Homo sapiens: one gene and its partner. The protein of the gene in region 1 interacts with the protein of each later gene in a pairwise test. Each region holds a gene or a part of one and is shown on either strand. Other genes may lie near its edges.

What was found. The genes of interacting proteins can lie anywhere in the genome.
Region 2: the proteins of SLC25A5 (region 1) and ADCK2 interact in binary tests that used the Homo sapiens proteins (3 or more experiments, as listed by UniProt).

What each region holds. Positions count from the first base shown.
Region 1 is NC_000023.11:119,466,264-119,470,012, reverse strand, and holds the start of SLC25A5 (ADP/ATP translocase 2), read right to left. Parts: upstream 1,570-3,749; 5' UTR 1,498-1,569; coding exon 1,387-1,497; exon of another isoform or gene 893-1,386; intron 353-892; coding exon 1-352.
Region 2 is NC_000007.14:140,682,875-140,686,623, forward strand, and holds part of ADCK2 (uncharacterized aarF domain-containing protein kinase 2), read left to right. Parts: intron 1-3,749. UniProt on the Homo sapiens protein: The function of this protein is not yet clear. It is not known if it has protein kinase activity and what type of substrate it would phosphorylate (Ser, Thr or Tyr).

The DNA.
Region 1 (3,749 bases):
GGAATTCCCTTTCAGCTCCAGCTTTACCCACATCAGCTGCTAGACGGGTACGGGCAAAATCAAGAGGGTACACAAAACACAGGGATGTGGCCCCTGCGGCACCACCCGATGCCAGATTCCCTGCAAAGTAGAGCCAAAACTGGGTTCTCTTGTCCACACCACCCAGGAAGATCTGCTTGTATTTATCTTTGAAGGCGAAGTTAAGAGCCTGGGTGGGGAAGTATCTGATGACATTGGCCAGGTTACCGCGCCAGAAGGACAGAACTCCCTGCTCCTTGGGAATACGGACCACGCAGTCTATAATGCCTTTGTATTGCTTATCTGCAGTGATCTGCTTGCTGGCATGCTGCACCTAACAGACAGGAAGGAAGCCAACAGGGACAGTTATAACCATGGGGAAGGGAAAGAGAAGAGCTTATGCCATCTCGATCAATGCCCTTTAAGGTAGGCTCCCCTCTCTCAAATCTAGTCTTCGTATATCATACTGGCTGGACCCTCCCAACCCTCTGAGGCTGTCACAGGGGAAGAGGTGATCTGCACCAGTAGCATTAAGCCTCCACCCCTCTGAGTGGAGAGGGGGCATCCTCCAGCGGACCCGTGACCTTCAGACCTAGGAGAAAGGTCATTACCTCAAACCCAGGTTCAGAGGCATTAGGGCGAGTCCCACATAGGGCGCGGTCACCTTGGGGACCGCAGCCTACGCCTCAAGTCTCCTGAGCTGCTTCCGTCTCGCTCCGCCCCCACTCCGCTCCCAGAGGTGACCCGAGCGCCGCCGCCGCCAGCCCTACACGCTAGCCCAGGAGCGCCCTCTAGAGCCGGCACTGGAGAGCGCGCGGCGCAGGGAGGCAGGCGGAGACGCGGCGGCAGCGGCCGCGGCTGCGCGGGGGCGGACGTAAAAGGCACACGCGCTTCCCGGCGCCGGCTTCCGGCCCGGCGAGGTTTGAGCGCGTCCGCGGGCTGGGAGGCCGCTGGACCCGGGCGCATGGCCTCCCCCGGGCAGTTATCTCCTTGCCGCGACCTTGAGGTCTTCGGTAAGAACTGGCGTTCCTCTTTCTAACGCCGGCTTTCGGCCTTCGCCCTTGACGCCCAGGCCCGGGGAGGCCGTCACTCAGAAACTGCTCCATCCGAGTCCGCCGCCTCGGAGATGCCGAGAGCCTGGTCCTGCCCTCTGCCCCCGGCCCCTTCCTAGACTCACTACTTCAGGTCACTAAAGGCGCCTCCCACCAGTTTGACTTCTGTTCTGCCTCTGCGCCCCGCTCTGGCCTCTCCTAAGCCGCTTCCCTGGCCATGTCTTTAGAGTTCGCTCCCCGCCACCCCTCGGGCGCCCGCCTTCTGTGCGACCCTTCCCCCCACTTCCTGGTTGGGCTCCTGGATCCCAGGACGTACCTGCAGCAGCAGCTTGACCCGCTCGATGGGCGCTACCGCCGTCTTGGAGATGGCTGCGGCCACTCCACCTGCCAGGAAGTCCTTGGCGAAGGACACAGCGGCATCTGTCATGTTGAAAGAGGAGGCAGACTGCTGCAGGACGGGACTGGGCCGGGAACCGGCTTTGACTCCGGCGCTGCGGGGCGGAGCGAAGCAAATGGCCGATTTATATAGGGGGAGCCGGAGCTGGAGCGGCAGGCGTCGGAGGCGGGGCCGGGGCGGGGTCTGGGCCCCGGCGCGCTGGGCGGCAGAGCCGCTGAGTGGCCCAGCTCGCAGGAGGAGGAGTCGTGGAGGGCGGGCCGGGACTGCTCTCCGCGCCGCCCGTGCTCGCCCTCGGCACCTGACCCGGCGAGAGGAAGGGGCGGGTCCAGAGAACACCCGGGACTTGAACGCTGGACCCTGAGAGAGGCCTCGGAGAGGGGAGGAAGGGTGAGGTCACGATGTGCCTGGACAAAAACCCTTGGAGCAGGACCAGGACTAGGGTGAGACGCATTTGCTACAGGGATGCCAAAAGAACCCTTCAGTCATCGAGATAAACAGTAGTCAATGCGATACTTTAAAAAAGTCGTATGGGCAAACTACATCCTACTGGCCGGCCCCCTTGTTTTGTAAATAAAGTTTAATTGGAGTGTCAAGGCTGGGTTTAGGGTGAGGCAAGCGAGACAAGGTCATGCAAGTGCAGGTTGGGATCCTGTCTGTATTTCAAATGTTGATCATTTGTTCATCATGGATTTTTGCATTGCTTCTGATTTTTTTAAAATAGTACATGAAAAATCATTTGTCTTAATTACTGAGTTGTTTTTCACCAAGGTGAATGCCTCACTCTTCCCACTCTAGACCGTGTGCTGTCCTGGAGCCAGTGAAACCAGACGAAATTAAGGGAACAGCAGACGAAGGAACTGCCACCGTGCCCCAGACCCTGGTTTGCAAATACAGTTCGACAAAGATCTTGCCAGGAATTGGCCTGGGAGAGTCCAAAGGACTGGGCTGGGGGTGGGGAAATGATTTTAGCCAGAAGACAAATATAGAGGTTGTACCCAGAAGGTTAAGAGGCTTAGGAAGGTTAAGAACTACGTTAACATTTGGCTCCCAGGACCCCAGGTAAAGTGCCCTTGGATTGAATAGATTTCTGAACTCCAGAAACATTTAGAGGAATCAATAGAATTAGATTGGCAGCCATTGTGCCAATGGACAAGTGCTTACTGAGCCCCTTAATCCCTTCACTGGGTAAGCATTTGCCACACATGTCCTCAAAAACCTACTTGTTAGCTTAAGTGGACTCCCTCAAGTTCAGAACAGGAGCAAATAGTGTAATCACAAGTTCCGTGTCTGAATAATCATAACAATGTTTATAAAAATAAGGACGACTGTTGAAAACTGCAACTGCAGCTGAACCTTATGTGCCCAGACTTCAGAATTCCCATAGGCAAAATGCCAGCAGGCCTTTGCACACTGAACACATAGTGTTCATATCCTTCACTTTCCTTTCCTGCCCTCTCCTATCTTCTCCAGATCTGCCTGTGAAAGGACCCAATTCTAGGACCCCCCAGGATGGTTAGGCCCTTCCTCTGAAAGTACACTTTGCAATTTGTTAGTCTCCTCAAGAACCCCAGCGATCGAAACTGATGCACACAAATTGCATGTGTTCAAAGGAGCAATTTTGAATCTAGCTTTGTTGATCCTGGGAGAAATCTTTGACCTGTGTTAGTGAAAGGCTATGGTGTTTCTCAGCTGATTATAATAGCGAGGTAGCTGAATGCAAAAAAACAGTTTCAGAGAATGGTAGAGTATATCCTCCAAAGGTGATACTCGCTTCTCTATTCTGGTGAGAGAAACAAGAGCTAAAGCAAAATTCTACAGAGGGCTTTATTTGGAGAGAGGTGGATTTTATTTATAATGCATTTAAAATTCAAAATCTTTCTAGTTTGAACTCTTGACATTCTGATTAATGCATTTTTATTCAACTGTTAATTATTCCTCGATACACCTCGCCATCACTTGTGTATCCCTTTTCTACATGTGACCTTTCCCTGGCCACATCTGCTACTCTCTTTGAGCATGATGCCTCTACTGTATTCTATTCCAGAGCTCATTGTTTTGTCAGTTTTTTTTCTCTCCACAAAAAAAGATGATCAAATAATTACATAGAATTTTTCCCTTCTCAGTCTTTGGGTAACTAAGTGTGGTTTTATTGACGATGAAATACAAGATGGGTCATTTAAAAGCAACTTCTTGTCATCACTTGGTATTTTGCTAAATCCACGGTGAGCTGGAGCTCCCGTAGTCACCTATCACCGCGTGTATTTTAAGGAGTCAGATATTCT
Region 2 (3,749 bases), on another chromosome or scaffold:
ATGCCTTTAGTCCCAGCTACCTGGGAGGCTGAGGTGGGATCACCTGAGCCCAGGAGATGGAGGTTGTAGTGAGCTAAAATCATGCCACTGCACTCCAACCTCAGATACAATGAGACTCTGTCTCAAAAAAAAAAAAAAAAAAAAAAAGCCAGGCGCAGTGGCTCATGCCTGTAATCCCAGCACTTTGGGAGGCCGAGGCAGGTGGATCACGAGGTCAGGAGATCGAGACCATCCTGGCCAACATGGTGAAACCCTGTCTCTACTAAAATACAAAAAATTAGCCAGACGTGGTGGTGCATGCCTGTAGTCCCAGCTACTCGGAATTGCTTGAACCCAGGAGGCAGAGATTGCAGTGAGCCGAGATCACAGCACTGCACTCCAGCCTGGCGACAGAGCGAGACTCCGTCTAAACAAACAAACAAACAAACAAACATAAAGAGACATAGGAGGTTTTTATGCTGAGGAATGCCCTAATGTCACAACCTCATGTCCACTGTGTGGAGTTGGAGTGGGAGGGTGAGACGAGAGGCAGGGGAGTCAGAAGGTGGATTTTGATTCTTGGACATTTAAACATGTTCAAGTTCTCCAGCTCTCACCACATGCCTGGGTCCTCCCTACCATGATTCTTTTCCTCTGAGACCCGGGTATTCTTCCTCCTAAGAACCTGGGTTTCCATCTCCTAAGAATTCTTGGTTGGTTTTGTCTTTCCTGTGTCTACCAGCGAGGATTCTGAAGGCCCCCCAGCTGAAGAGGGGCCTGGCCGCATCAGGAGGGCATTCTTTGTTTCACAAAGGCCAGAGCCGTGGTTTACAACAGGGTGGTTTTGTCTACCAGGGGACATCTGGCGATGTCTGGAGACATTCTTGGTTGTTATAGTTGGGGGTTGGGGGTGCTACTGGCAGCTGTTGGGAAGAGGCCAGGAGCTTACCACCCCAGAGTGCAGGGACAGCCGTCCCCACCCCCAGCAATAGACTGAGAAACCCTGGGCTGGAGGGATGGAGAAACTTACAGGCACAGGGACAGGATTTGATGGTGCTTCCATGGGAAACCTTCTATTTCCTTGTGAACTAAGGGGCCATTGTTCTCTGCTGGGAGTAGGATGCAGAGGGCCATGGGAGAGGAGGTTTAAAGAGAACACAGAGGTTTGAAATTGCTGCCCTGGGACTAGAAAGAGCTACTTGGAAAATGTGGATGGTTGTCAGGAGGGGCAAGCCATGTTGGTGTTGGAGAGGCAGAGGGGTATTTTGCCTATCTGCAGTGTAGCCTGGGGGTTAGGAGCCCAGAGCAGGATTTGTTTTGAGTTCAAATCTCAGCTTCCAGTTTACTAGCTCAGGGCAGAGAGGAGTGTCTGGGGCAAGTTACTTAACCTTTGTCGTCAGGCTTCTTATCTTTCAAAAGAGGATAAGAAGTGCCTTCCTCATAGGGTCACCATGATGGTTAAAGGAGTGGAAATTCCTAAGGAGCTGCAGTGAGTCCTAAGCCACGCTAGTTATGGCTGCCTTCGTTGGCAGTAATCGTGACCCAGCATTGTTAGCAGCCCCCATGCAGGAGATCTTAGATTGTCGGGGGTCTGGACTTTCTGGTGGTTGGGACAGAGGACAGTGGTTGAAGGGATGGATGACAGGAATGGGCGATGGGGTCGAGGCGGATAGGGAAGAAGAATACCCAGGTCTCAGAGGCGAAGAATCATGGTAGGGAGGACCCAGGCATGTGGTGAGAGCCGGAGAATGAATCGAGGAGTCAGAGATCGAGCTGTTGGTGGAGGCACGTCTGGAGTCCCCGCAGCAGGGGCGCTCAGAGCAGGTGGAGTCCTGCAGGCTGACAGCACGCACGCACATGCGGAAGGCTGAGAGCCGTTGTGGGGGTGGGCTCAGGTGACACCACTCCAACCCTAATTCCACTCCACCCCAGGGCCTGTGGGATGGGGAGTCAGCAGCTCCCACCCCTCTGGCTCCTGGAGAAGCAGGATTGTTGAGGCACACCTAGGTTTCAATTCAGTAGTTGCAGTCAGAACCCGGTGGCAAGAGGACTTTGTCCACAGGAACAGGGCTCCAAGGGGCACAAGAGGGATGTAGCCAGGGGAGAAGCACCATGAAGCAGCACCAGGAGTGGAGCGAGGATGAGGGGCCTCCAGTTTTGGGGTCAGGATCGGGGCATGAGACCCTGGGCAGAGCTGAGGGCAAGGTTCCAGAAGATTCAGAAACTTAAAAAAAAAAACAACTGAATTATAGCAACATTCAATAAAGTGCATAGATCTTAAATTATGCTCAGTGAATTTTTAAAAGTATACTAGGCCAGGCATGGTGGCTCACTCCTGTAATCCCAGCACTTTGGGAGGCTGAGGCCGGCCGATCACTTGAGGTCAGGAGTCTGAGACTAGCCTGGCCAACGTGGTGAAACCCCGTCTCTACTAAAAACACAAAAAATTAGCCGGGTGTGGTGGTGCACACCTGTAGTCCCAGCTACTTGGGAGGCTGAGGCAGAAGAATCGCTTGAACCCAAGAAGTGGAGGTTGCAGTGAGCCCAGATCGCACCATTGTACTCTAGCCTGGGCAACAGAGTGAGACTCAGTCTCAGAAAAAAAAAAAAAAATGTATACCAGGGCCAAGATTAGTGACCTACTTAGGAGGCACCAGCTTCGCTGGAGGGTCAGCCCAGCCTTTGGTGACCATGTCCTGCAGGTGTGCAGGTCCCAGCCCCCCAGGTCCCAGGATTTTCACACCGGTAGCAGCTTCCCTTATCCCTACCAAAGCCACAGTCTGGACTAGGACAGTCCCTTCATGGTCTGCCGCCATAAGGGATGGGGTCTATGGCCTGGATTTACAGGGAAGAGGGGATCTACAGTGCTTGGGGCCCCATGTCAGCTGGAAGCAGTCCCTGAGAGCCCGTCCACCAGCAGCTGCTCTGCTCCTGCCTTGGTCTCTCCTCTCATCCCCCGTGGAAGGATTGCTGGGGTTTCCCTGACCTCCGAGATGACCGGTTATTGGAAGCTGATTCCTGTTCCACAAGCCGTGCCAAATCCAACACAATCCCTGGGGGTTGCTGCCCAGCTTAGCAGGTTCAAAGCCGTGTCCTTCCTGCTCCTCTAATTCTGCATACCAGTATGTCCTGAGAACTGTGTCCTCCTCCACAGAAGGGCTCTGTGTGCATGTGGCTGCTAGTGGCACTTGCTCTCACACCTCACTGATGTGGACAGGTTGAAGTAACGGAGGGAAAGTCTGATTTATGAGCTGTTTTTAAAGAAATGCAGTTCTATGAGTTTAAAGAACATAGAGGTTTGGGGAAAATCTTTAATAAATAGCTAATTATTTTAGTTAGAATATTAATGATTCAAATCATAAAGTAAAAATAAGGCATTTCAAATGCAGTTTGGCCTTAGACTTTTTATTTTATTTATTTATTTATTTTTGTTATTATTTTCTTTGAGATGGAGTCTCGCTCCGTCGCCCAGACTGGAGTGCAGTGGCACGATCTCGGCTCACTCCAACCTCTGCCTCCCAGGTTCAAGCCATTCTCCTGCCTCAGCCTCCCGAGTAGCTGGGATTACAGGCATGTGCCACCATGTCCAGCTAATTTTTGTATTTTTGGTAGAGACGAGGTTTCACCTTGTTGGCCAGGCTGGTCTTTAACTCCTGACCTCAAGTGATCCGCCCACCTCAGCCTCCCAAAGTGTTGGATTATAGGCGTGAGCCACCACACCCGGCCTTATTTATTTATTTTTACAAGACAGGGTCCTGCTGTGTCACCCA